7 linked regions of the Homo sapiens genome follow. The protein of the gene in region 1 interacts with the protein of each later gene in a biochemical or structural test. Each region holds a gene or a part of one and is shown in the gene's direction. Other genes may lie near its edges. The genes, in order: SNTG2, TNRC6A, RPS6KA3, CNTNAP2, SLC2A1, TRIM29 and TTC24.

Region 1 (4,115 bases):
TGCAGTGGTGTGATCTCGGCTCACTGCAACCTCTGCCTCCTGGGTTCAGGAGATTCTCCTGCCGTAGCCTTCCGAGTAGCTGGAGCTACAGGTGTGTGCCACCATGCCCGGCTAATTTTTGTATTTTTCGTAGAGATGGGACTTCACCATGTTGGCCAGGCTGATTTCGAACTCCTGACCTCAAGTGATCCACCTACCTCAGTCTTCCAACGTCCTGTGATTATAGGCGTGAGCCACTGCGCCCGGCCAATATGCACTATTTTCTTAAGAAAAAGTCTATAAAAGTGTACATGACATTTCTCTTTTGCAAATAGGCATATGTAAAGTATGTTTTTAAAAAATATTGCATGACAGGGAAGAACTACTGAATTTGAGACGGTTGGTTGTTAATACTTTGCCATGATTGAGTTCTCAGCAAGTGGAGTGTCATGGAGCAGTGGAAGGGGACTATGTTCTCCCAAAGCTCCCCTGTCAATCAGAAGCACACAGGTGGTCCTAGAGAAGGGTGGATGCTGAGTGCAGAGGGTGCTGGGCTGCTCCAGCCTCACCCCATCAGGAGCTTTAAGTGCTCCATCCAAAGGGTCTTCGAAAGAATAACCAGTAAGAATCCTGCAGACAATAACTCCAGAATTTCAGGAGCACTGTTCTTTCCTTGACAAAGTGCTTTTCATGTTTCATCGAATTAGAAGTAGCTCCTGTTACCAAGGGAATTCGGGGTTTGGTCTTGGTCTCAGCGAGCCTGCTGACTGTACTGAGGCGCCTGAGGAAGTGGTGCAGTTGCCCCATGTCCTGGGTCCAGGGTAGAGCCCTGCTGAGCATCAGCCTCGAAACTCACGGAGGCAGGCCCGCTCCCGTCGCTGCGGGGCCTCCTGGACAGCTCTCTCCCTCCCCAGGTGGAATGCGTTCGAGGTGCTCGCCCTGGACGGAGTCAGCTCTGGGATCCTCCGGTTTTACACAGCCCAGGATGGCACCGACTGGCTGCGGGCGGTCTCAGCCAACATCAGGGAGCTGACACTTCAGAACGTGAGCACACGGTGTTTCTGAGTCTCTGCTGATGCTCATTCGTGCATGAAAAATAATGGAGACATCATGTTTCTGATGATTTATGATTAACCCGAAACAGAAAATCATGTACTTGTTTCAATGTGTCAAATCTATGTCTAAAAACATTAAAAATGAAGCCATCAGAATGTTTCCAAATCAAAGAGTAAGGCAATGTCTAACAGCTGAGAATTTCCCATCTGGTTTTGTCTTCCTCCTCCCCTCTGTCTGCCTCTGTCTCTCTCCCTCCCTTCCTCTCTCTTTCTCTCCACACACATATACAGAAATAGTTATATGTCATAATTTTATATTTTACCCAAATGCATTGATACAGTGTGACATTTTGAGTTGGGGAAACCTAATTGAGTTAAAAGTATAATTCTCCCAAACATTATGAAGATTTAGAAAAAGGCATAATTGAGCAAAAACATTACTTCTCAAATTTGTACTGCAGTCCCCCAGAAACGAAAAAGTATTCTGTCCCCTTAAGTGATGTTTGATATTAAAAGTCAACAGGATTTTAAAAATTAAAGAAATGAAAAGAGATGGGGTGGGAACGAAGACTTGATGACACGGGCGTTGCCTGGAGTGATGGGTGCCTGGACTCGGACATGGAGCCGTGGCCGCAGCCCTGGCAACTGTGGCAGGACTGGCCGTGCCTGGAGGCGGCCCTGGACCAGCCTTGCTGCCCTTGCTCCCTCTAAGCTGAGTTGCCCTGTAATTGCACTTCGATCCCTGCTCTGTTCCTTCGCAGCCTGGAGGCTGCAGAGGCTGGGTCCAGCTTGCAGACTGGCCAGGCGTGGCCCACCCTGCGGCCCTGCAGATGCACCCGCCCTGCCCCTGCCCTGCCCACCACCTCACGTCTCCCTTGCAACCTCCCTTCTTCCTGTGGCTGCAAAACAGAAGTTAACCTAACACTGGGGGAAGCAGCAATGTGTGACATTTCTCCTGTGAAGACCTCAGGGGCTTCCTTTCTGCAAGCAGAGAAGGAAGTACCAGGACCTTCCTAACATTGTAGTTTTCAAACGCAACACTTTAAATTCCAAAGTTATCTCAATAAATAGGGAAGAAAGGATGGTGCTTGACTTATATTTGCAGAAATGTTTGTGACGAGGAGCGCCCTTCAGTTCTGTCATTTCACAAATCAGCCCTCATAGGCAGGGCAGAGAAGTCAGACACCCCAATATTTCAGAACAGAAATGTGGACTCTGAGCTGCCTCCCGGCTGTGTGGCTGTGGGCTGTGGGAACATTATGATTCTGCACCTCCACTTCCTCGGTGAAATTTTGGAAAACAACATCTACCTCCATAGGTCATTGGGAGAACTAAATAAAAGAAAGAATATCAACTGTGATCACCGTAATTACCATCACAGTAATACTGACTCTCACAAGGTTATGTAGAGCAGAAATCATTTCCTCACTTTTCTCAGATATTGGAATTTAAGCACCTGCTCTTGAAGTGTAACTTCACTTACATAAATGCTGATATTTGAAAAAGAGGAATTGAAGCCTGCTAGTAAAGTTGTTTTCTACTGCTGCCATGTTTGTATTGACTCTGGCTAGGTCTTCAGATAGGAAATATGTCATTAAAGAGGCCTGTTTCCCAGGACAGAGCGTGGCTGATGACTTCCAGCTGTCACTCAGGTGAGCCATCCTGGTGTTGGTGGCTGTGGCCCTGACTCTTCTGCCTTCTCTCCACAGATGAAGATGGCGAACAAATGCTGCTCTCCTTCCGACCAGGTAGGGTTTGTATTTTCTGCTTCATGATGTAACACATCAGGTAGGGTTTGTATTTTCTGATTCATGATGTAACACATCTCGAAAAGCAGTCTCTGGTTTTTTGAAATTTGATTTGAAAATGTTGATAGGAAAACATTAGCACATTTCAGACTGCATTTGGTGGTCTCTGCCCTGCCTGTTAATTCTATAAAACTGCTCTTTCTGTGGGAATAGCATAGGTCATTCTGATCTCCTGTGTATAGATTATTTCTCTATTGGCAGTTATGTTTTGTAAAGAATCGTGATTTAAATGATGATTTAGATATGATTGTTTAAACTGAGAAGGGCTTTGAGATGACACACCTGTGTAATTTGAAATTTTAAGCATTATATTATTTTCTTAAATAAAATCCTTACTAGGAAAGCTTCATTCTCAGGAGGGCTTTGGCCCAGTGGGTGTTATTGCCAGTGGGTAGGATCCTGTCATCCCCAAATCCAGGCAGTTTGTTCACCTGGAGCCCAGAGCCCTTAACGTTGTCCTGGATTCAGGATAGCTACCTTTGTAGCCACCCTCAGGCCTGATTTTCTGCTCACTTCCCACGTCTATGAGTACTTAGGAAAACTCTATGGTAATCAAGCTGTTTCAATATCAGCCAAATCAGTTTTTAAGCCACTGTGTTATTCTTCTGTTTCCTTTATAATAAACTTATGATTTAACTTGTAATGTAAGGGAGTATGTTATTTATAGTTCATTCATTTTCTGGTTACATCTCTTAGGGGCGTAAGGAAGCATGCATCATAGCCTCAAGTTAAGAAAACTGAGAAAAACATGTTCGCTTTGCTTTAAATAGCGCACAAAAGACTTTAAATAGTGCTTAGCAAGAATATTTGAATTCACGATGGAGGACTTGAGAAGAGCAGGTCCTCTGCCTATGAAATATTTACTAAAACAATGGGAAAATAGGGCTGTGTTTTAAATTAAACCTCTCTAGTCAACATTTCTACATTAGAAAAGAAACACTAAGAATAAATGGTTCTTCTAACTTTTATCTCTTTTAATATTATTCTAAAATTACCATCAACTATTTTTGTTTACATAGATATTTTATGATTAATATTTCTATAAATTCTTCAAATTAATATAGGATTCATTTCATATTCTTATACATAAAATATCATTTCCCTACTATGTGTTTTTGAAACAGAAGTTCTGAAACTTTTCCACAAAGTACATATCTCTCTATGGTTCACACAGGAAACAGCCTTTATCAAGGCTGGTGGGACAGTGGGCCAAAGTTTTGACATGATCTCTATGAATAATTTACCATTTTGAAATTGCATCTTATTCACACAC
Region 2 (4,115 bases), on another chromosome or scaffold:
TTCAGGCTGATGCATGATAAATCTCTCACTGAAAAAACAGAAATCCCTATCTCATTTTAAAATTTTAAAAAATTGGCCGGGCACAGTGGCTCATGCCTGTAATCCCAGCACTTTGGGAGGCCGAGGTGGGCAGATCACTGGAGGTCAGGAGTTCAACACCAGCCTGACCAACATGGTGAAACCCCATCTTTACTAAAAATACCAAAATTAGCCTGGTGTGGTGGCACATGCCTGTAATCCCAGCTACTTGTGAGGGTGAGGGAGGAGAATCGCTTGAACCTGGGAGGCGAGGGTTGCAGTGAGCCGAAATTGCGCCATTGCACTCCAGCCTAGCCTGGGCACAAAAGCAAAACTCTGTCTCAAATAAATAATCAATCATTCTAACCTTAAGCAAAATTGGAAAAATGTTGCAACTAATACCTGTATCTCTTTACCTAGTTTTAGTGATTATTAATATTTTGCCACATTTGTTCTATCGTGACATTGCACACCAAAGTATGGCAGTAGGTATCTCACAGAATAAGGGCATTCTACCTGACAGCAATCAAATGATCACCCACAGGAAGTTTAACTTTACAATTCTGTCTGGTCCCTATTCAGATTTTCCCAATTTTCTCAAAATTTTTTTTAAAGTTGTATTTGTTCTTTCACTCAATTGCTGTATCCTGGGTTGCATTTAGTTGTGTCTGAAGTTTCTCTTACATTAGGAGCATTTTCCTGCCCTTTTCTGCTTCTCTCTTGACAATGACATTTTGAAATAGTCCAGTCTAGTTGTTTTTGCAGACTGAAATTTGCATTTTTTGGGTCTTGTCTGTATGATTAGGTTCAGGTTGACCCTTTTTGGCAGGAGTATCCCATAGGTGATGATGTGTTTGTCTTCAGTATTCCCTCCCCACAGCATTTTGAAGTAAATTAACCGAAAGGTTATCCAATATTCTTACTTCTACACTGACTTGGTGTTTCTTTCATTTTAGGAAATGCCAAACAATTGGTTTAAACCGAGATGTAATTTTAAATATTTGAGGTTACAGTAATTACAGGTCTTTGTATTTAAATCGATCAGCCATAATGATTACTGCTTTTATGAAGATTTATGCCAAAGGTAGCTCCCTTACTGTGGGACATAAAAGTTGCTTGTTTTCAGCTTTGACCAGTGATGAACTGATAACCCTGGTAGGAAAATGAAACATTGGGGCTGGGCTTGTAATACGCTTTCTTAAAAGAATGCCCCATTGAAATTAGAGTGGCACGGTGCCACCAGACCAAGGGTTCTCATCCCGATGCCACAGAGGGACCACAGGTGTTATGAAGTGGTTTGCAAAATTGAATGTATGCCAAAATAAAATAATAAAAATAAAAATAAAACCCCACAACAAAAGCAGATATGGTCTTTAGTGCTCATTAGATCTCAAAGGGTCATTACTCCTCAAAGATTAAGAAACTGCTTCTTTATGAGGAGGTTGTCAGAGGAGCTGAATAGTATCAATAAGAGGAAGATGTTTGAGATTCAAAAGGAAGTAATATTCGACTAAGGCATAGCTTCTTTCCATCTTAAAAAAAAGCCACCCATGAAAATAAATATAGTTTAAATTTCCTATTTAAGATGTCTTATTTTAAAAATGATTTGCATACTCTGTGTGTTTGAGTTGGCTATGAAGGAGAAATCCTAGCATTTCCACTCTTGTAACTAGGGAAAAGCATTTTGAATTTTTAGCAGTAGTATATTATGTGATGATGACTCAGCTGACTTCCCGTTTCAAATGGAATGTTCAAAACAGATTGAAACCTGGTTGAAGAATTTTATACTTTGAACCTTACAAGATATTTTCTGCAAACAGTGACTGATTGGATTTTGTATAATAACAAACAAGATTAAGCCAACTCAGTTGTTTTGCTGTTCTTATTAGTGGTTTTCAGTCAGGGAGCACTTATTGAGCAGTTTGCTGCAATAATATTGAATATTTTTAGAGTTATGACGTCTGTGTTTTGTTGACTTTGGTCCCTTCTTTCTCCCATTCTTTTGAAGTTTCCCTAAAACATGTGTGCACAGACGGGAGAGAATGGTAGTTAAGTGTGTGCTGATTTTAAATGTCCTTTTAAATATCATTTATTCCTTGATAATTGACTGTATAACTGATGTAAGAGAAATATGTTTTATATGTTATTCCACTTGTGAATCTCTTTGCAATGTGAGGCATATAGTGAAAATCTTACAAAGATAGGGTCATAAAATGTGCATTCTCTACACTGCTGCAGGTTAATCGTCCTCGAGCCACGTTTCTGAGGCCTGTCAGTCACTATTTCTTAGAAACCTTTGTTGGCTCCTTCCCAGTGACTCTGGAATTAAAGCCCAGACTCTTGTTTTTTGCTCAGCTTATCAATTTAGCACTGTCCCTTCCACCTTTTGCCCTGTCCCTAACTCTTCCTTCTCTGAATGTACCTTTCAGTTTCTCTCAACTTTTAAATAACAGCTTTATTCAGATAAAATTCCCATATGATAAAATTCACCCTTTTAAAGTCCACAAAGTGTATGATTTAATGGTTTTTAGTATATTCACAGAGTTGTGCAATCAGCACCACTGTCTAATTCTAGAATTTTCACCCCTTCACCCAAAAACCCCATAATAGCAGCCACTCCCCATTTGTCCCTTCCACCCAGCCTCTGGCAACCACTAATCTACTTTCTATTATAACTCTATGGACTTACCTATTTTCGTTTAAGTGGAATCATACTATATGATACTTTTGTACGTGACTTGTCTTATTTAGTGTAGTGTTTTCAAGGTTCGTCCATCATGTCGCATATATCCTTTATTCCTTTTTATGGGCAAATAAATTTCATTGTATGGCTATTGCCCATTTTGTTTGTCCGTTCATCAGTTAATGGGCATTTGGGCTGTTCTAACTTTGGGGCTATTATGAATAATATTGCTATGAACATTCATGTACAAATGTTTGTGTGGACATATATTTTCAATTCTATTGGTTATATACCTAGGGGTGGAATTGCTGGGTTATATGGTAACTTTGTTTAACTTTTGTTTGTGTTGTTTTGTTTTGTTTTTGAGACGGACTCCCTCTGTTGCCCAGGCTGACGTTCAGTGGTGCAATCTCAGCTCACTGCAACCTCCCACCTTCCAGGCTCAAGCCATCCTCTCACCACTGCCTCCCAGGTAGCTGGGACTGCAGGTGCATGCCACCACGCCTGGCTAATTTTTTCTATATTTTGTAGAGATGGGGTTTCACTGTGTTGCTCAGGCTCTGTTTAACTTTTTGAGGAACTGCCCGACTGTTTGCAAAGCAGCTGCACAGTTCTACATTCTCATCAGCAATGTATGGAGGCACTAGGTTCTCCACATCCTTTCCATTGCCAGCATTTGTTAGGGTTCTTGTTTCTGATTTTAGCCATCCTAATAGATGTAAAGTGGTATCTCATTATGGTTTTGATTTACATTTTCCTAATGGCTAATGATGATTAGCATCTTTTCATGTCCTTATTGGCCATTCGTATATCTGATCTGAGAAGTGGCCATTCAGATTCTTCTCCCATCTTTAAATTAGGTGATATTTTTTGTCATTGAAAAAGGTCTTTATATAGCTTAGATACAAGTCCCTTATTAGATATATGATTTACAGGTATTTTTTCCTATTTTGTGGCTTTTCCTTTCACTTTTTTTTTTTTTTTTTTGAGACAGAGTCTTGCTCTGTCGCCCAGGCTGGAGTGCAGTGGCATGATCTCAGCTCACTGCAAACTCCACCTGCCAGGTTCAAGCGTTTCTCCTCCCTCAGCCTCCTGAGTAGCTGGGATTACAGGCACCCACTACTATGCCCAACTAATTTTTGTATTTTTAATAGAGACAGAATTTCACCATGTTGGCCAGGCCAGCCTTGAACTCCTGACCTCAAATGATCCACCCGCCTCTGCCTCCCAAAGTGCTAGGATTACAGGCATGAGCCACCGCATGCAGCCTCTTTTCACTTTCTTGATGAAGTCCCTTGAGCACAAAAATTTAAAATTTTGTAAATCTAGTTTACCAGTATTTTTTTCTGTTACTTGTGTTGTTGGCAACAAATCCAAGGTCACAAAGATTTACTTGTATTCTAATAATTTTATA
Region 3 (4,115 bases), on another chromosome or scaffold:
ACAGCCCTGTGAAGTGACCTCAGTGAGATATTTGGTACCATGGTGTAAGCTGATAGCACAAGTTCTGGCGACAGGTAGCACGTATCTGAGAGACACCTGCAAGCACACACTGTCCCAGCTGGTACCCATAATGCTGCTGTTCCTGCTGCTGCTCCTGCTTTCCTCTCTTCTCGCTTTAAATGATTGTTAGCAAGTTAGATTTTCCTGGAGCTTCGGAAGAAATGAAAATGGAAACATGATGAAGATATAGTCACTGAATCAATGAGAAAAATAATGAACATATGAATACCACCTAAAAATACACTGAATAAAGTACACCATATAGCATTATTTTTATAGGAAATATTTCATGTCCCTTAAATATTCTTTGTTAGTTATAGGGATGGACAGTTTATGTTAAGCACTTAGCTTAAACAATCCGTTTATATTAGCACTGTATCCCTTGTGCCATCCAACATTTTGTATGTTTTTGTAAACAGTTCATATACAGTACATTTCTGTACTGCTTTCTTTAATGTATACATGCCTTGTTTAACTTGGAATCTATTATTATTAATCAATTGACTATTAAATCTGGTTAAATAGTTCACCTGGATTAACAGTATTGTTGGACAGTCCTAAAAATGGCCAGATTGTGGAACAGCTGTTGAATGTAATACTTCCAAAATGTACATATCTTTCCCCACGTCTGTTTCACTGGTTCGTTCATTTGTTTGTTTCTTAAAGTCAGGTGCTCTGTCAGACTAACCTAGAGAGCTGTTATGGTAGAGAAAGTTATCATATGTGTGTGGCATGAAATCAAGAATACACCTATGAAGTTAGTCCATATACTTTGCAACTCCTTAGAGTACTTTTTTCCTTAATTAAGGAAGTAGTCCTTGCACTTCTAATCTTACATAGCATCCATACTTAGAATTTGGCATATCATCTGGGATTTTGCCAATATACGTCAAAGCCCTTTAAGAGTCATGGTAAGGAGATGGGTGAAGGAAAATTTAGCAACAGGTAATTGAAGTCCTATTGGATATTTCATGTTTAAATAGATATTCTATATTAAACACTAATTTAAATGTAATAAAGGCCAAAGGCCTCTGTATGAAATTGGATTTAAACTTTCTTATTTTAGGGAATAAAACATTATTGATCAAACAGTATCTGTTCTAACCTAAAATTATAGGTAGGGCAGGCTAAGTGAACAGCATTGAGTATTTTCTGAATCCCTCATGATAATTTATAGCCACATACTGCTTCCTTTGACTTCAGGAATGATCAGTTTTCATAATGGCCACTGGGCCTGCTTAGATTGCAGTATTCATTATCTGCATCTAATTTGGTAGTTTCCACAATCGTATTTGATGAAAGAAACTTCAGTCCCCATTATTACCTGTGTCTTTGCCAAGCTGCCTAGCATACATCAGTATGTAATGTAAAAGACATATGAGCAAGAAAAAAGTGATTTAACTTACCTCATCAAGAATGTGCCCCTACAGGCCGGGCGCAGTGGCTCACGCCTGTAATCCCAGCATTTTGGGAGGCCGAGGCAGGTGGATCACCTGAGGTCAGGAGTTTGAGACCAGCCTGGCCAACATGGTGAAACCCCGTCTCTACTAAAAAATACAAAAATTAGCTGGGCATGGTGGCGTGCACCTGTAATCCTAGCTACTCAGGAGGCTGAGGCAGGAGAATCGCTTGAACCTGGGAGGTGGTGGTTGCAGTGAGCCAAGATCACACCATTGCACTCCAGCCTGGGTGACAGAGTGAGACTCTGTCTCAAGAAGGAAAAAAAAAAAAAAGAATGTACTCATACAGATTTTTGTTAGTCATCATGTAATAAGCCATTTATATCAGAAACCTTTTTTCCTGCCACAGAAGCTTTAAATTTTCCCCTAAGAGTACAAAGCCAAGAGAGTGTGGTTTATCTAAATGTCCTGAAATCCACTTGTCATTCCTTAATTTCTCCTCTATGCAATTAAAGAGAAAGGGGAAATCTATAACATTTCTTTTGCCCAAGTGACACAAAAATGATTACTGCATAGAAATCAAATGTAAGTTTAGCTTCTAAATGAAATAATATATAGGAGGGATATCAGAATGTCTAGATAGAGAAAGTATTTTCAAATTCTTGAATATATGGATGCTATTAAAAGCTGCTTTCCATTGCCTGGAAAGAGAGCTTTTTTCCCTCCTCTATTCAGTGTTTCAAACTTTGGTCATCTCAAATTATTGTCACTTTTAAAATGTTAATGTCATTCTGAGCAGAAATAGATATATTTTCAGATTTTTTTACACTGATGCTACTCCGTAATTGCTTAGGAGTATTGTCCATCATAGTATTTTAGAACTAGAAGTAAACACATAAATCCTTATAAATTACCCAATCCAACTTTCTCATATTGCATGTAGAGAACCTGAGACACATATCAAAGTCTAGAATCCTTAACTTCTCCCCATTTTGTTTTTTTCCGCCTCATCACACCATGCTGCCTTTCCCTCATATGATCACCAACCAGTAGCTGAGTTCAAAAACTACATATTTCTTGGGCAGTCCTCTACTGGTATGTGATGCCAACTTTTATTTCTTTCGAAGATAATTGCCTTCTTTGCCTAGCCAAGCAGCCAATTTTATTGGAGAAAAGCAAGTTATATGTTCACAAAATGGAAGGCTTTCTACCTAAATTTATTTCATCTGTGGTCCTCTTATTCTCTTCCATTGCTTTTGACATACAGTGGAAAAACTTGGCCAACGATGTGCTCTAAATATAGTGCTTGTGTTGGGTTAACTTTTCCATTAATTTCTCAACATCAATTATTCAGGCCCCTACAGTTGTGGTATTGAGGCCCCTAAAGGCTTCTGCCTTTCACCAATTAGTGCTGCCAGTTACTGAGGCTTCTCCCAAAAGGTATCAGTCCAGTCTTAAAGATATTTCATTGTGAAAGAAGAAACTAAACTATCAGGCCTCTTTTACAAAATGAGAGATTGAATTTAAGCTTGTCAAGCACGTACTGGAAGGTATGAATTACACTACCATGTGTTTTGTATCTTCCCTTTCAAGTGATGATGTTAAATGAAGGTAAGTTTTTCATCCTTTTTTAATTTTTGTTTTTTATAAATCATTTCAGCTTTTTCTGGTTTATAGAGGTGTCTTATTTCTAATGCAACAGACCCCCAACTTTAACAGATTTGATATGGATGCATTTATTCACAAGCAACCCCAAAAGTCCAAAAATGTAATAATTTTGACAAGGCCCAAAGTTGAGATGCTATGAAGCTTGTGTGTGTGAAAAGTCAGTTATGATTGTCTGGAGAGAAGCTGTGGTGTGTATGCTGTAGAGTTTCCACATTTCACATGCAGTGTACTCCAAAAAGCGGGTTTGGGTCAACCATTTCCCATCTCTTTTTAAGAAGTGACTGCTGTTGGGGCCAGGGGACATCATGGGAGGTGGGGCTGTCCAGTTAGCTGTGCCCTGCACCTTCAGCCCAGGAAAGATTTGAACAGAGCAAAGGCTTCAAGAGAGGGCAGAATGTATTCGGCAGAAAAGGGACTCAGGTAAGCCCAGCCTGGGATGAGAGCAGAAAAGCATTCAAGATTTGCAGGCCTTGCTATGGATGCGCTTAATCACCATGGAGGCCAGCAATACCCATCTCAGCATGGCTTTGATATTCTCTACTTCCTGGCCTTTAAAAATGACCTATAATTTTTCAGTTTGCTTTACTATATTTTATAAAGAAAATTCTATCTTATGGTTGATTGAGCATTGAGACTTATGAAGGCATTAGGATAGATAGCTCAGGAATGTAAAGGTTCAGAAAAGGTCTGTTTTCTCAGATTAACAAATATGATGGATTCCATGGCTGACCTTGGTGCTTAAACCAGGAGGTTTCAATCTAGTCCTAGAGTTGTGTCCCTCTGAAAGGCCCAATGCCATGTAACTAACTTTAAACTGGATATATACTTTGAGCCTTACTTAATTCACAGATAAGTTGACTTAACTCAGTATTTTTATTTCAATTAATGAAAACAGTCCTCTTTTCAACCCCAGGTTGCTTACATTTTGCTGGTCTCCCCAAGTGACCATTGGTGGAGACCAATTAATGAAGGAATGAAATTCACTTT
Region 4 (3,464 bases), on another chromosome or scaffold:
GGTAGTAGCCTCTTTAAATAATATGTATAGACAACAACAACGACAAAAAATAGACTGTTTTAAAGTTTCAGGGAAAGTTGGTGGCTGATTTAAAGTTGTGCAGGAAACATCTTCTGTGTATGAAGCAAATGTCGATGTTTTGAAAAAAGCTAGGAGATGACTTTGAATGAATGCAAGGTTAGTGAGATCCTAAGCTCTCAAAATAGCATATTCCCTAGAGCTCAAGAAAGCTGGTCCAGGAGGTTGAAAAAGCTATTTTGTTGTTAAATTATTTTCTGGCCCTTCTTAATATTTAAAAATGTATTTCCCCTTGTGGCTTTCAACCACCTGCTCAAAAAAAGAGACTTGTTACATGAAAGTTTTCATTAAAGAGCTGAAAACAAGAATTTAGAGAGCCATTCCTAGAAAATGTCCTACTGCCCTGCATTTGACAAACAAGCATCCTTTACTAACAAGAGCAGGAATTCAGAGGCACAAGAAAAAGCATTGGCATGAGCCAAAGAGTCTGTCTTAATGTTACTTTTGAAAATCTGCTGAGCGGCCACCATATGCAGGCTGAGAGCTGGGCACAGGCGAAGCCATTGGAAGCACTTCAGGAACAAGCACACAGCTGTGGGACTTGAACATGCAAGTGTTCAGGTTGTGTCAAGAAGCTTTTCTTTCCTTCTATGATGGAATCTGTTCTTTTCTATCCTACTTTTTTCTCTCTTCCTCTCCTCACCACATTATACCCTGCTCTTACGCAGTAAACGTTTTAATGGCCCGTTTATGTCTCATGCCTCCAAACAACACTGAATTTGAAACCCCCCATTTTTTCTTTTCACCACCCTGTTGAGCAATTTTCCCAAAAAAAGGGCAGCAATTATTAAATTGAATTCAAGTAAGCCAGCCAAAGATAGGTCCTAAATTGCTAGTCCCAGTAGAACCACCTGATCCTAAACCAGTGCGAAACAAACAGTAACAATGTCCCCAGCTGACTTCAGCTAAGAACCAATGGCTCCTACCCCCGCCCCGCTTTTTTTTGTTGTTTTTTGTTTTGTTTTGAGACGGAGTCTTGCTCTGTCCCCCAGGCTGGAGTGCACTGGCGCAATCTCGGGCTCACTGCAACCTCCTCCTCCTCCCACATTGAGGCGATTCTCCTGCCTCAGCCTCCCAAGTAGCTGGGATTACAGGCACCCGCCATCACACCCAGCTAATTTTTTTTTTTTTTTGTATTATTAGTAGAAGCCAGGTTTCACCATGTTGGCCAGGGTGGTCTCGAACTCCTGACCTCAAGTGATCCGTCCACCTCGGCCTTGCAAATTGCTGGGATTACAGGTGTGAGCCACCGTGCCGAGCCAGCCCCATTTTTTAAATGATGTTTTGGTTAAGAGTGGACCATGAGAATTAGCTGACAGCATCCCCTTTCTCTCTCCCTGCCTTGGTGGGACCCTCCCTGTGTGACCTTGGTCAAGTCCTCGAACTTTTGTCCCGTATTTAAGATGGAGCTGTTTTACCTACTTCATAAGACAGTTGCGAGGTGCCATTGATTCTTGACTGCAAAATACCTTGAAACCCTTATATAAAGACTGAAGTCAACGGAGCCTAGTGAAAGACTTACTTTGTGGCTTGTGGTTGAAAGTCACATCAAAAGACAAATGTGGCCACGTTCAGGAATTGGAGACTTACTGGCATGGCTCTACAGCTGCTCAGTTATTAATCATGCAGACTAACCTGTCAACACTGGGAGATGCAACATAGCAAAAGGACAGAGAAATTAGAATTTTTTGTGCAGAAAGCCCTAAATTCCCACCTGAATGTAACTTACAGCTCCCTTACCTACTCTCACACATGCCCTCAAACATGCTAGATTGGCTTATACATAGGCCAACACAAAATACAAACGTGACGTGTTCATGTAGCCTAGTGGCTATATGCCTATTCTCCATGTACCCTGCATGGTAGTGCTGCAAACTTTAAAGTACATTTCTTTCACAGCAGTATTTTTTTTCATAAGTGGCATATAAATGTCATTCAATGAAATGGGGAAATCACGTTGAGAAGTTGGTCTGTCATCTCCCATTGAGCAAAGACTGGCAGGAGATAATAAAAATAAATATGGGCACACATGTATTAATATACAGCACGCATTTACAAGTTTATTTTCCAGATAAAATTGTGCTATAAGAACAGCTCTACCAAGACAGTCTGCACCATTTCCAAGTCTCAGTTAATTTACAGCAACTGCTGCTTTCGGAGATGGCTGTGAAAATATGGAAGTTCCTCTCAAGTAGGCCAAGAAACAGTTCTAGATTTTACTAAGTTTTATTTTGTCAGGTTTTTTAAATTTTTTCAGTGAGCGTGGTGACTGCAGAGGTTAGTGCTGTGAAAAGCTGGGCTAAATATTCTTTCTGTAAAGTCAAACAGGATTCCATCCCCTGTGAAATAACACAAAATTTCACTCTCTAAAAGCAACAGCATGTAAACTAGAATGAAAGAAGGAAATTATGTACGTATGCCTAATATTCTTTGTGAATGTCTTTCATTTAACTAAAATTATATTAGAAACCAGATTGATAAATAAAAAATTCAAAGTAGTTTTAATTATCCTAAAAGCGATTCTTCGTGTTTTGTACCACTTGTCTCTCTTAAGAGCAATTTTCAACCTTCAGCAAAAGTTAAGTTCCAAGCACTGAAATATAAGCCTACTGAGAATATCGTCTTTCCACAAGTTGTGGAGATATAGTCACTCCTAAAAGGTCTGATTTGGGTACGTCCATGGTTAACCTCCTACCACAAATAGCTCCCCGTTAAAAGAGGAGTTTTTCTTAAAGTGGCTTAGTAGACATTGACTTTGGTTAGTTTACACCCATCTTGATAAAATGTGGTTCGAGTTCAGTTATCTCCAGAATATATTCTGATCCTTATTTGGAATGAGGGAGTAACACTGGATAGTGGGCACATGGATCCAAGCCAGGGAACTAGACAGCAAGGACTCGGCATGCATCGGAGGTGCGAAGCTTCCTAAATGCACTCCGTGTGCTTTTAGAGCTAAGTTATTACTCTCACTTGCTAGTTGTTCTGCAGCGAGCAGCTCTATGCAAACCACCCCTGCAAACCAAGGAAGCTGAGAGGCCAAAGAAAGAGGCTGAGAATTCCAATTTCTCAGAAAGAAACATTTCATAGGGAATTACAAACAGAGGCCATGTCTCAGGCAGCCACTAGACAGATGATGAATGCCTGCACTGTTACCCCCCCATGCCCCCCACACCCTGGACCCAGGGCTTATCCACCATAGGGAAAGGGTCTACAGACTTAAGAAGGGATGTGTAAGACAATTGCTTAAGGGTAGGGTTTACAGTAAGTATGATAACATCAGAGTTGTTTTGACCTAAGGGTGGGATTTATGGTTAAGTACATGCCTTTACATAAGGAATCACAGAGAAAATAAAAACCTTAGAGGCATTCCTGGAGGAACTGGAGTT
Region 5 (3,500 bases), on another chromosome or scaffold:
TGAGGCCCACAAAAATAGAGGGACTTGGCTCAAGAACATGCAGTGAATCTGTGGCAGAGCCAGGCCCTGGCCCTCTCTTAGGGAGGGGTGCAAGGGGAAAGGAAAAGGAAGACTGGGTCCTGGCCCCTGGCTTGCTCACCCAGGCTGCATCTCCCCCTGCAGGTGATCGAGGAGTTCTACAACCAGACATGGGTCCACCGCTATGGGGAGAGCATCCTGCCCACCACGCTCACCACGCTCTGGTCCCTCTCAGTGGCCATCTTTTCTGTTGGGGGCATGATTGGCTCCTTCTCTGTGGGCCTTTTCGTTAACCGCTTTGGCCGGTAAGTAGGAGAGGTCCTGGCACTGCCCTTGGAGGGCCCATGCCCTCCTGCCCAGGGAGTCCCAGATGGGGTGGGAGGTAGGGGAGACTTATCTGCCTGTTCCAGGGTATTACCTCTGACCCAGCCCCTCGGAGCCCAAGGAATGTGGGCACTGGCCTGACCTGTGACCCCGTCCCCAGGCGGAATTCAATGCTGATGATGAACCTGCTGGCCTTCGTGTCCGCCGTGCTCATGGGCTTCTCGAAACTGGGCAAGTCCTTTGAGATGCTGATCCTGGGCCGCTTCATCATCGGTGTGTACTGCGGCCTGACCACAGGCTTCGTGCCCATGTATGTGGGTGAAGTGTCACCCACAGCCCTTCGTGGGGCCCTGGGCACCCTGCACCAGCTGGGCATCGTCGTCGGCATCCTCATCGCCCAGGTAAGCTGGGGCAGGATCTACCTGCCTGGCACGGCCCCTGCCCACAGCTTCAGTGGCTCTCGGATCTGTGCCCAGCAGGGCAGAGTTTCTCTTCCGCCCAGCCCCCACAGCCTTGCAGAGGACAACTATGGTACACAGGTCCAGAGAACACAGCACCATGGCCTCCCAGTTGACAGCAAGATGACTTGACTCTTCTCAGTCCCTTTCTTCTCACTCTAGGCTTCCAACCACAGGGCCCGCCTTCCCCCAACATGCCGCAGGCTGTTATGCACAGTACCCTCTCTCCAGGAGGCTTCCCCTTCCCTGTCCCCAAAACCCTCTTGTGGCAGAGTAGCAGCCCCCATTCTCTGTGCTGGACACATCTGTGGCCTTGTCATTTGTCCTCCCAGCAACACTGTGGGGTAGGTCCTACTTTTCCCATGTGACCGATGAGGAAACTGAGAAACAGGGCTCATGCTAGTGGCAGAGCCTCTAGAACTGGGGCCCTTCCCTGAAGCAGCAGCTGACACAAAGTAGGGAAGGCCACTCTGGCAGGACGGGGTGGGAAAGGGGGTCAGGGCAGAGGCGCTCACGGCCCCTGCTTCCCCCAGGTGTTCGGCCTGGACTCCATCATGGGCAACAAGGACCTGTGGCCCCTGCTGCTGAGCATCATCTTCATCCCGGCCCTGCTGCAGTGCATCGTGCTGCCCTTCTGCCCCGAGAGTCCCCGCTTCCTGCTCATCAACCGCAACGAGGAGAACCGGGCCAAGAGTGGTACGGGCATGGCCCTGCCCTCCTCCCCACTCCCTGAGCCCTGGCCTTCTTCCCACTCTGAGCCACCCTCACCTTCCCTCCGGTCCCCCCAGTGCTAAAGAAGCTGCGCGGGACAGCTGACGTGACCCATGACCTGCAGGAGATGAAGGAAGAGAGTCGGCAGATGATGCGGGAGAAGAAGGTCACCATCCTGGAGCTGTTCCGCTCCCCCGCCTACCGCCAGCCCATCCTCATCGCTGTGGTGCTGCAGCTGTCCCAGCAGCTGTCTGGCATCAACGCTGTGAGTGCCCCCACCCACCCTTCCTGTGCCCCAGCCAAGCCCTCTGGTCAAGTGTGCATGGTGAACAAGTCCCAAACTTGAAACAACAGATACGCCTCTGCCGAAGAAGTTTCCCTTTAGACCCCAAGCCCGTAAGGTCACTGCAGTGCAGTGTCCCTTCTGCCTGAGTATTTGTCCCCTTCATTCTTTACTCATCCTGGGTCCCACATCCACTGCTACAGAGGCAGGGAAGGGCCACAATGTCCAGGTAGGCCCCAACAGTTTCTCTTGTCTGGCAGGTCTTCTATTACTCCACGAGCATCTTCGAGAAGGCGGGGGTGCAGCAGCCTGTGTATGCCACCATTGGCTCCGGTATCGTCAACACGGCCTTCACTGTCGTGTCGGTGAGTCTTTGCTTACTGGCCCCCCCAGCCAAACCCCAGGGAGGAGGCAGTGCCATCTTCCCCACTGGTCTTTGCAGTGCCCTGTGACTTTCTCAGCTCTTGAGGCAAGGCCTCTGGGTGGGTGGGTTCAGAAGGGCACTAGGCAGGGGTGGCACTGACACTGTCTCTGCCCACAGCTGTTTGTGGTGGAGCGAGCAGGCCGGCGGACCCTGCACCTCATAGGCCTCGCTGGCATGGCGGGTTGTGCCATACTCATGACCATCGCGCTAGCACTGCTGGTGAGTTGCTAGGTTCTGGAGAGTGAGGGATGCGGGAGAGTTTGCCTGGGCTTCATATCCCAAAATGCCTGTCTCAGCCCCAGGCTGGCAGGCCTTTTGGTGGCTGCATTCTCCCTGGCTGTGGGTCTGACTTTCTGGCTCCTGAAGTTGTCTCCTTCCAAACCACACACATCCTCTCTTGAACTTGCTCCTCCCTGCTTGATGGATTCTCAGCGCAGCACCTCTGGTCCCAGACCCCAAACTCTCACCTCCTTAAGGAATTGCTTTGCCTAATATTAACCCTTTCCAATCTTCATCTGTAGCCTCAATTCATCTTCACAGCAACCCCGGGAAGTAGTGCTGTCCTCCCCATAGAGGCGCAGAAACATGCCTTGCCTCATTCAGTTCACACGACTGGAGGTGTAGTTCAGTTCTTCCCATTTTATGGGGGAGGAAGCTTAAGTCCCAGTGAGGTTAGTAACTTGTCAGATAAAGGATGAAGCCAGGAATCAACCTCAGTCCCAGGCCTGTGACTGTGACCGCTGTGCTAACCCTGTGCCTGGCACTCACACACAGGCACTCGTTTATTTAGCCTCTGGGCAAGGAAAGCACCATGACTGTCATTTTACAGCTCAACCTGGGCTTGGAAAGTTTGGTGGTTGCCGAAAGGCCAGACAGGCAGCAAGTGGAAAGCCCATAAATTTTCTACCCTGGCCTCCTCAAGAATGGTTATATGCAGAACCGTATGCTTAGCGCTTACTCTGTGCCAGCCTGAGCTGGGCACCTCACACGCCTTAGAACCTGAATCCACCCCACCCCCAGGAATGTTCTGCATCCTGCCACAGGCGGACTGTGCTGCAGGCACAGACAGGGGACCATGGGGCCTCTTAGCACCGTCCACATGCACACCACATTACCACTCCCAGCGGGTGGACTCAACACTTGCAGCCACCCTGCAGGACTTAAATCATTTTGTTCGGATGAGGAAACTTAGGCCCAATGCTGGATACACAACAAATCCAGGACCATCCCCAGGCTTCCTGCCTTCTCGCATAGCTCTGCTCTGGCCTCTGTAGCTTCTGTT
Region 6 (4,115 bases), on another chromosome or scaffold:
CTCAGGATGCTGCTTCTCCTACTGCAGAGTTTATTTAACTCCCAGCGTTGGCTGGCTCTAGGGTCCTGTGGCCATGGGGCACCTGCCAGCATCCTGCAGATCCAATCCTGCAGGCGCCCCTTTGGGAAAGGCAGGACCAGACGACCCTAAGTCCCCCCAAGGCTGATCCTCTTTTCCTGCACTCTGTCCCCCGCCTGCCTGTGGTGCTCCCAGCACTCTGACAAGGCAGAGTGATTGACGCCTCCTGTCCCCTGGGGTTGGGGGCATCCTGAGGGGGCAGGCTTGAACCAGACTCTGGCTATGGGCCCCAGACCCTCATGTATCTCCTGAAAGATCCCAGGGACAGCTCTAATGGCTGTGGTGGGAGTAACCCTGTCTCTCTTCTGGCACCCCAAACATCTGGCCTGGAAGTCAAGATCAGCACATTGGGTGGGCTCAGGAGAGGGAAAGGGGCTATGCAGGGCAGAGAGACCCCTGAACAGTGGTCTCTGAGGCCTCATCACTCAGTTGTCCCTTCCGGCCCAGGGTCCTATACTATACCCAGGACAGGGATTCTTGGAGCTGCCGGCAAGAGGGAGGAGACAGGACTATGGGTGGAGGGTCCCAGCCTGCAGGAGCCCCGGGCATGTCTTAGCTCTGATCCGGGCCTGGGGAGCTCCAGGACTTGCCTTGGCCTGTTTGGCTTCTAGCAGGCGCCTTTCTGCTCTCTGCTCAAGCCTGGCCCACAGAGCACCTGGCAGGGGAGGTGGCCGCTCTCAGGTGTGATTCAGAGCAGCCCCCAGAATGAGGTGTGGGTCCTTTTGGCCCCTCTGGGACCAGCGCTGTGCCACTAATGCCTCTCTCTCTCCCAGCAGGCACTGGGAAAACCCCTTATCAGTTCACCACCTTGGGACAGGCCACTGCAGAGTTTTCCAAACCACTGGGTCGCAGTGGGCTGTCTAAAAATAATCCCGGTATCTGCCCATTTTCCATCCCTCCCCTTTTCTCTCCCACAGCGGGGCAGGTGGGACATGGGGGGCTCTCTGCCACTTCTAGGGTGTGCCGGTCCCTTCTCCCCAGAGCTCCCTGGAGAGGGATGCATGCCCCACCTGCCACCCCAGCATACTCTCTATCTGGACTTCTGCCTGCTGCACAAGGCGGGTGTCTTGGGCCACCCTGACCCCACCCCTGTTTCCATTCTCCCCTCTCTCATGGCTGGCATGGGATTTTCTTTCTGGGAACTGAGAGATGAGGCCTGAATTACCCCTCTTAATCTCCACTCAGGATCCCTGGAACCCCCCTTTCCAAGGCTGCTCCCACCCTCAGATGCAGGAAGAGACCCAGGTTCTTTGCTCTGTCTCCTCCCCCTCCTCCTTGCTCAGTGCCAACCTGGGAAGGGCCAACCCAACTGGCAGCCTGGCGGTGCTCATCATGAGCCTGACCTGCTCATCCTCGCTTAGAGCAGGGCAGGAGAGGGGCTTTCCCGAGACAGACCGCATGCAGCCTCTCACTGGACAGAGATCTGGCCCAGGACAGACCCTGCTTATTTCTTGAGGGCCTCAGCATCCAGGTCATGGCCTGTGTCTTCCCAGGCGTCCCTGCAGGCTGATGGCTGACACTGAGAGTGCCTTCACTGTGCTGTGAACCAGAGCTCCTTTCAGGTCTGTCTGGGCTGAGGCGCAGGGAGTCAAGGCGGCCCCGTCTTAGACTAGCATCTTTGCAACCAAGCTCAGAGAGCGCACCTGCTCCAGGCCTCTTGGGCTTGCCATCCTAACCCTGGGTGGCGGCCACAATGACAGATTCCTGCACCTCTCTAGGCCCTAGTCTCTGGCTAGTGAAACAGGGGAGGGGCCACAAAGCCAGGGAGAAAAAAACATGAATTTGGGTTTTGGATTTCCGGCACTCTGTCCCCCGCCTGCCTGCGGTGCTCCCCAGCACCTGGTTTGCTGCTTATGAGCTGTGCAACTCAGGCAGACTGCTGAGCTCATAGATACGGGGCCAGGCTCAGTGAGGAGACATCTACAAAGTCCCTTCCACAGTGCTTGGCACAAGTGGGGCTCCGTGAATGGGAAGCATCGTCCAAACAGCACAGGGGAGTCCAAGTGAGCGCCTCCTGCCGGGAAACTCTGGCAGGCCATGCTTATGCGTGGCGCTCCTGGGCTCTGGGAAGGGGAGGGCCCGTGGTGTAAACCTCCGGGGTGGGTGAGTGGAAATCCCTGCAGAGCAGTGTGATGCTGCGCTGGATGTGGGGGCAACACTCCCCTGCTGCCTGGTCCAGCCCACCTGGCCGGCTCCTCCTCCTTCTGTCTGCTTTGCTGCCTCCTCCCTTTGGCCAGCCTCCCCAGGATTTTCGGTTGCGGCACCCTGGCTGCTGCACGCGTGTTCAGACGGCTGCATTTGGTAATGGGCTGGATGATGCTTGGTGGTCACTTTGGAGAAGGCAGCTGTGCTGCTCTGGGCCCGGGCACCCCTGACCACCAGCGCTGCTCCCTTTGACCTGAATCTCTTGTCTTCCCAGGCTATCCCTCCCTCATGCGGAGCCAAAGCCCCAAGGCCCAGCCCCAGACTTGGAAATCTGGCAAGCAGACTATGCTGGTAAGGGAAGTGCTGCCGGGAGGGCCTGGGCACATCCAGAGACCTGGGCACTGAAGGGGGCTCCCTGGAGGCAATCGGTTCCAGGGCCTGTGGGAGGACTTCTCTGGGCCATGGGGTGGAGGAGAAGGAGGCAGCAGTGGCCTGAATACCTGTACACAGCAGAGGGTAGTAGAGACCCAGGGCTAATGGGCAGGGGACTAGCTAAGCATACACTCTCTGGACCTCAGTTTTCTGATCTATAAAATGGGCAGCCTTGATTTTTTTATTTGGCAAATGCTTGTTGGATGCCTATGCTAGTGGAATGGCAGCTTGGGTTCTGCCAGCTCTGGGATTGTAAAACAGCCCAGTGGGAGGACAGGCCTCCTCCTAGAGATGGGTCCCACCTCCCTGGGGGCAGTTCTCCAGTTCTGACAGCATAGAGGCCATTGGGGTGATAATGTGGGGGTGGGAGAGACTGGAAAGTCGGGAATAGATATATTTAGGGTCAATATCTAATGACCCGAGGCCAGGCATATCAGAAGAGCAGCATGACAGGGAAGCATGGCTTTGGGGTCCAGGCCACCTGCTGACGGTGGGGTCCTGGATGAATTAGATACCCTCTCTGAGACTCTTCCTTGCTTTTTATTATGTGGGGACTGAGATGATCCCCAGTGCCCGTTAGATCTGACATATCTGACCCTGACTGAGACCTCAGTGATCGGGGACTGTAGTTCACATGCAGAGCCCCCATGTGCCTGAATGCCTTGCTCCTGAAGGTCCATTCTAGGCCCTGCTACAGGAGTCGGCCACTGCCGTGGCATGTGGATGGCATCAGGAGCTCTGCTGGAACCAGGGCCGGAGCCCTTGTTTCTTGCTGTCCTTGCAATTGGAGGTCAGAGCAGGAGAGGTGATTTGCCCTGGACCACAAAGAATGGCTGGGGTTGGTTTAATTGGAGAGGATCTTTAATTGCTGGGGATGGGAGCTAAGTGATCGTGTATGTAATTTGGAGCTGGACTCAGGGGCATTGCAACAGCAGGACTGCAGAAAGCAGATATGGGGAGAAAAAAGAAGGTTTCTGTTCTAGACTCAGTCCTTCCCCTCCCTACTACATACTTTTCCACCCTCTCAGAGCCTGGGGCCCTGAAGAGAAGGCTCATCAGCACTTTGAGGCCCCTGGCAGAGCAAGGTTTTGGTGTCCAGCAGGCACCCAGCACTGGGAGAGTGGAGACAGGCGCTGGGCTGCAGAGAAGCTGAGCTGGGAATCAATTTCCCTGGGGGCTGGCCCCAGCTGTCTCATTGACTTGCTGTGTGACTTTGCATGAGGAAAAATGATTCCTTTGTGCCTCAGTTTTCCCATCCATAATTAGGATGATTTTGCAGCTCTTCCACCTGCTGTATGTGCTGTGACCTCAAGCCAGGGAGGGGATGGGAGGGTGAAGGTAGCATTTTGCCCTGATGCCCACCTACCACTCCAGGCTTTTAACCAGACAATGCCATTCATTGACCTGCAACCCATATTATTGACCCAATCTTCCTCAAAGAAAGGCTTCAGCCATTTCCA
Region 7 (4,287 bases), on another chromosome or scaffold:
GAGAGAGAGAGAGAGAGAGAGAGTGTGTGTGTGTGTGTGTGTGTGTGCGCGTGCGTGTGCGTGTGAGAGAGAGAGAGAGAGAGAGAGAAAGGGTTCACTTCCAGGACAGCTCAAGCCCCATTAAAGCTTGCTATCACAGGTCATGCCGGGTGCAGTCTGTAATCCCAACACTTCGGGAAGCCAAGGCAGGAGAATCATTTGAGCTCAGGAGTTTGAGACCATCCTGGGCAACATATCAAAACCCCATCTCTATAATAATAATAATAATAATAATAATAATAATAATAATTATTATTATTATTATTATTAGCCAGGTGTGGTGGCACATGCCTGTGGTCCCAGCTACTTGGGAGGCTGAGGTGGGAAGATCGCTTGAGCCCAGGAGGTAGAGGCTGCAGTGAGCTGTGATCATCTAGGCACTTCAGCCTAGATGACAGAGCAAGATTCTGTCTCAAAAACAAACACACAAACAAAAAAAACAACTTGCAATCACACAGTGTAGTGGAAGGGACCCTAGGCTACTCACCTTGAATCAAAAAACCTAGAGTTGGCTGGGCGTGGTGGCTCATGCCTGTAATCCTAGCACTTTGGGAGGCAGAGGCAGGCAGATCACCTGAGGTCAGGAGTTCAAGACCAGCCTGGCCAACATGGGGAAACCCAGTCTATACAAAAATACAAAAATTAGCCAGGTGTGATGGCAGGCACCTGTAATCCCAGCTACTCAGGAGGCTGAGGCAGGAGAACGGCTTGAACCCAGGAGGCAGAGGTTGCAGTGAGCTGAGATTGCACCACTGCACTCCAGCCTAGGCAACACAGCAAGATTCCGTCTCAAAAAAAAAAAAAAAAAAAAAAGACGGGGTGCAGTGGCTCACACCTGTAATCCTAGCACTTTGGGAGGCCAAGGCAGCCAGATCACTTGAGGTCAGGAGTTCGAGACCAGCCTGGCCAACATGGTGAAACCCCTTCTCTACTAAAAATACAAAAATGAGCTGGTTGTGGTGGCGTGCACCTGTAATCCCAGCTCCTCAGGAGGCTGAGGCAGGAGAATCACTTGATCACTTGAGCCCGGGAGGCAGCGGTTGCAGTGAGCCGAGATGGCGCCACTGCACTCCAGCCTGGGTGATAGAGTGAGACTCCATCTCAAAAAAAAACATAGAGTCTAACCCCAGCTACGTGACTGCTCTGTGACCTTAGTTAAGTCACATCTGCTGTCTGAGGCTTGGTCCCTTCCTCTGTGAAATGAGGGGATGAAGTAGATGATTTCTGAGGGTGTAACTAGTAAGCGCCCCTCTGATGCCTTGATTCATTTCTTGAAGTGAGGGACTTGAGGGGGTGTGTCTGCAGCACTACCGAGGTTTAGCACTAAGATACGGCTTCAGAGCTGTCACTCAAATAATTCCCTACGACTGGAGGGTGGTACCTGGTTGTCTAGTAACCTCTAGGGCTTTGAGCTAACAGCTTGGGAGGTAACCCAAGCCAGAGGGGCCATTCCAGAGAGCCAGCTGCGGAGAAGACCCAAGGAGGTAAGGTGTCCTGCAGTGGGGATCCCCACACTGGATGGGGGTGGTCAGGAATGCCCTGGAGTGGAAGGCCTTGAAAAGGCAGGATTTCTGGGTGTTCTTAGAAGCAGGGGGAATTTCTTTTAAAAGAGACTGCTTTTCCTCTGCCTGCCCCTCCTAAAAAAGGGGAAAAAAAGGATAAAATGGGAGGGGTCAAGAGCCCAGGGCCTGGGTCTTTTCCACTCTTTTTCCCATCTCCTGGGAGGAGAGTTCATAAAAAGCTTTTGCCCTTCAAGGGGAAAAATACAAACAGGATATACAAGCTGCTGAGATGCTTGTATTCAGGTTTAAGAGGGCTCTGGAGACCAGAGCAGGAGGCTGGGGGCCTAGAACCAGCCAGCAGACAGAAAGCGGAAGAAATGGAGAGAGAGCTTCCCCTTGAGCTAGGGAAGGGGCAGTAAATGCATGTTCTGTCCCACACCACACTCCTTTTCAGAAAATCCTTCTCTCCTGGAGGTTCGCTCCTTGCCAATTCAGGAGCCTCCTCACCCTAGGGTCCCCAGTGCCTAGTGTGGTTCCTAGCACATAGCAGGGGCTCACTGAGTGCTTGTTGAACTGACCTGAACTACGTCTTGAGATTAGATAGCAGGAGTACCTAGATGATGAGTGAGGGGGGTGTCTGTGGAGGCACAGTGTGAAGGAAGTTATGGAGGAGAGGCCCTGCATATGCGGTTCCTTCATCTATTTATTTGCAGCTTTTTTTGAGACAGAGTTTCTCTGTCACCCAGGCTGGAGTGCAATGGCGCGATCTCAGCTCACTGCAACCTCCACCTCCCGGGTTCAAGCAATTCTCCTGCCTCAGCCTCCCGAGTAGCTGGGATTACAGGCGCCCGCCACCACGCCCGGCTAATTTTTGTATTTTTAGTAGAGACGGGGTTTTACCATGTTGGCCAGGCTGGTCTCTATCTCTTGACCTCGTGATCTGCCCACCTCAGCCTCCCAAAATGCTGGGATTACTGGTGTGAGCCATCGCACCTGGCCTATTTGTTCAATCCAAAAACACTCGTATGGTGGTAACATATACATAACATACAATTTACCATTTTAACCATTTTAAAATGTGCAGTTCAGTGGCATTAAGTACACTCACATTATTGTGCAATTAACACCACTATCCATCTCCAGAACTTTTTCATCTCCTTTCATAAACATTTATTGAGAATCTACTGTGTGCCAGACCCTGCAAGTTGCTCCAAATCTAGTAGTGGGGGGAAGACAATAAAGTCATCAGCTCTGACCCAGTGTGATAAATGCTATAAAAGACATAGGCATCAAGTGCTATGGGACCACAGGAGTACCCAGTTGGTTGAGAAGAAGGTGCGTTCTGAAGTAAGCTGTTACTTGACTTGAGTCTTGAAGGAGGACTAAGAATTAGTCAGGAAGTTAGAGTGAGAGTGGATATGGTGCCCAATGGGACAGAAGAAACAAAGTGAGAGATCAGAGAGCAATCCTTGAAACCCTGAGGGTCATGCTAGGGCAGGGGTAGAGCTGAATTGCCCTAAGGGGGTCCTGCTATCTAGAGGAAGCCAAGGCTGACATACTGAGCCCTCTGTTCCCCTTTGTCAGCCCTATGTCTTCCCCCAACCCTGAGGATGTGCCCCGGAGGCCAGAACCTGAGCCCTCAAGCTCCAATAAGAAAAAGAAGAAAAGAAAGTGGCTGCGGCAAGAAGCCAGCATCCAAGCCCTCACCAGGGCTGGCCATGGGGCCCTTCAGGCTGGCCAGAACCATGAAGCCTTGAACAACTTCCAGAGGGCCTTCCTTCTGGCCTCCAAGGCCCCACAAACCAGGGATACCCCTGTGCTCCAGGCCTGCGCCTTCAACCTGGGGGCTGCCTATGTGGAGACTGGGGACCCAGCCAGAGGCCTTGAGCTACTCCTGCGAGCCCACCCTGAAGAGAAGGCACAGGGCAGGCGACACGGCGACCAATGTTTCAATGTGGCTTTGGCCTACCATGCCCTCGGCGAGCTGCCTCAAGCTTTGGCCTGGTACCACAGGGCCCTGGGCCACTACCAGCCACAGGGTGACCAGGGAGAAGCCTGGGCAAAAATGGGAGCCTGCTACCAGGCTCTGGGACAGCCTGAGCTAGCAGCCCACTGCCTGCAGGAAGCAAGCCAGGCCTATGCTCAAGAGAGACAGCTGCGGGCCGCAGCCCTGGCACTGGGGGCTGCGGCAGGATGTATGCTGAAGAGTGGGCGGCATCGGGTGGGGGAAGTTGTGCAGGTGCTGGAGAAAAGCCGGAGGCTTGCCGAGAGGAGCACTGAGAGGCGACTGCTGGGTGAGACCTTCGGGCAGGGAAGGCATGGGATCTGGGGAGACACAGAGCCTGATGATACTCAGAGGGCTGGGTTTGGGGAACCCTGGAGGAGTCGATAGGGGCTGTACCAGCCTCATTTATATCTGGTCTGGCTACCAGTGACCCTGGCTATTCCCTCTAGGGCACCTCTATAACGATCTAGGCCTGGGCTACTCCCAGCTCCAGCTGTTCCCGCTGGCCGTGGAGGCCTTCCTGCAGGCCCTGCCCCTGTGCTGGGTGCCAGGAGAGCAGGCCACAGTGCTAAGAAACCTCGGGATGGCCCACAATGCCCTCGGCAACTATCAGGAAGCTCGGGAGTTTCACCAGAAGGCTGCTGACCTACACGGTGGGTGCCTGGGGCCGGGGAATGGGACTGGGACTAAGACACTAAGAAGGGGTTCCAAAAGGGGCCCAAGGCTTAAGGGTGGATGGCC

What was found.
Region 2: the proteins of SNTG2 (region 1) and TNRC6A interact in a test that uses a peptide from one of them, tested with the Homo sapiens proteins (one large-scale study listed by IntAct).
Region 3: the proteins of SNTG2 (region 1) and RPS6KA3 interact in a test that uses a peptide from one of them, tested with the Homo sapiens proteins (one large-scale study listed by IntAct).
Region 4: the proteins of SNTG2 (region 1) and CNTNAP2 interact in a test that uses a peptide from one of them, tested with the Homo sapiens proteins (one large-scale study listed by IntAct).
Region 5: the proteins of SNTG2 (region 1) and SLC2A1 interact in a test that uses a peptide from one of them, tested with the Homo sapiens proteins (one large-scale study listed by IntAct).
Region 6: the proteins of SNTG2 (region 1) and TRIM29 interact in a test that uses a peptide from one of them, tested with the Homo sapiens proteins (one large-scale study listed by IntAct).
Region 7: the proteins of SNTG2 (region 1) and TTC24 interact in a test that uses a peptide from one of them, tested with the Homo sapiens proteins (one large-scale study listed by IntAct).

Annotation. Positions count from the first base shown.
Region 1 is NC_000002.12:1,236,995-1,241,109, forward strand, and holds part of SNTG2 (gamma-2-syntrophin), read left to right. Parts: intron 1-893; coding exon 894-1,023; intron 1,024-2,743; coding exon 2,744-2,782; intron 2,783-4,115. UniProt on the Homo sapiens protein: Adapter protein that binds to and probably organizes the subcellular localization of a variety of proteins. May link various receptors to the actin cytoskeleton and the dystrophin glycoprotein complex.
Region 2 is NC_000016.10:24,735,809-24,739,923, forward strand, and holds part of TNRC6A (trinucleotide repeat-containing gene 6A protein), read left to right. Parts: intron 1-4,115.
Region 3 is NC_000023.11:20,151,295-20,155,409, reverse strand, and holds part of RPS6KA3 (ribosomal protein S6 kinase alpha-3), read left to right. Parts: coding exon 1-12; 3' UTR 13-4,041; coding exon of another isoform or gene 4,042-4,073; 3' UTR 4,074-4,115. UniProt on the Homo sapiens protein: Serine/threonine-protein kinase that acts downstream of ERK (MAPK1/ERK2 and MAPK3/ERK1) signaling and mediates mitogenic and stress-induced activation of the transcription factors CREB1, ETV1/ER81 and NR4A1/NUR77, regulates translation through RPS6 and EIF4B phosphorylation, and mediates cellular proliferation, survival, and differentiation by modulating mTOR signaling and repressing pro-apoptotic function of BAD and DAPK1.
Region 4 is NC_000007.14:148,418,405-148,421,868, forward strand, and holds the end of CNTNAP2 (contactin-associated protein-like 2 precursor), read left to right. Parts: 3' UTR 1-2,594; downstream 2,595-3,464. UniProt on the Homo sapiens protein: Required for gap junction formation. Required, with CNTNAP1, for radial and longitudinal organization of myelinated axons.
Region 5 is NC_000001.11:42,927,869-42,931,368, reverse strand, and holds part of SLC2A1 (solute carrier family 2, facilitated glucose transporter member 1), read left to right. Parts: intron 1-162; coding exon 163-323; intron 324-502; coding exon 503-743; intron 744-1,333; coding exon 1,334-1,496; intron 1,497-1,588; coding exon 1,589-1,776; intron 1,777-2,054; coding exon 2,055-2,159; intron 2,160-2,335; coding exon 2,336-2,437; intron 2,438-3,500. UniProt on the Homo sapiens protein: Facilitative glucose transporter, which is responsible for constitutive or basal glucose uptake. Has a very broad substrate specificity; can transport a wide range of aldoses including both pentoses and hexoses.
Region 6 is NC_000011.10:120,113,797-120,117,911, reverse strand, and holds part of TRIM29 (tripartite motif-containing protein 29), read left to right. Parts: intron 1-851; coding exon of another isoform or gene 852-953; intron 954-2,497; coding exon 2,498-2,574; intron 2,575-4,115.
Region 7 is NC_000001.11:156,578,236-156,582,522, forward strand, and holds the start of TTC24 (tetratricopeptide repeat protein 24), read left to right. Parts: upstream 1-1,487; 5' UTR 1,488-1,523; intron 1,524-3,125; 5' UTR 3,126-3,129; coding exon 3,130-3,835; intron 3,836-3,995; coding exon 3,996-4,199; intron 4,200-4,287.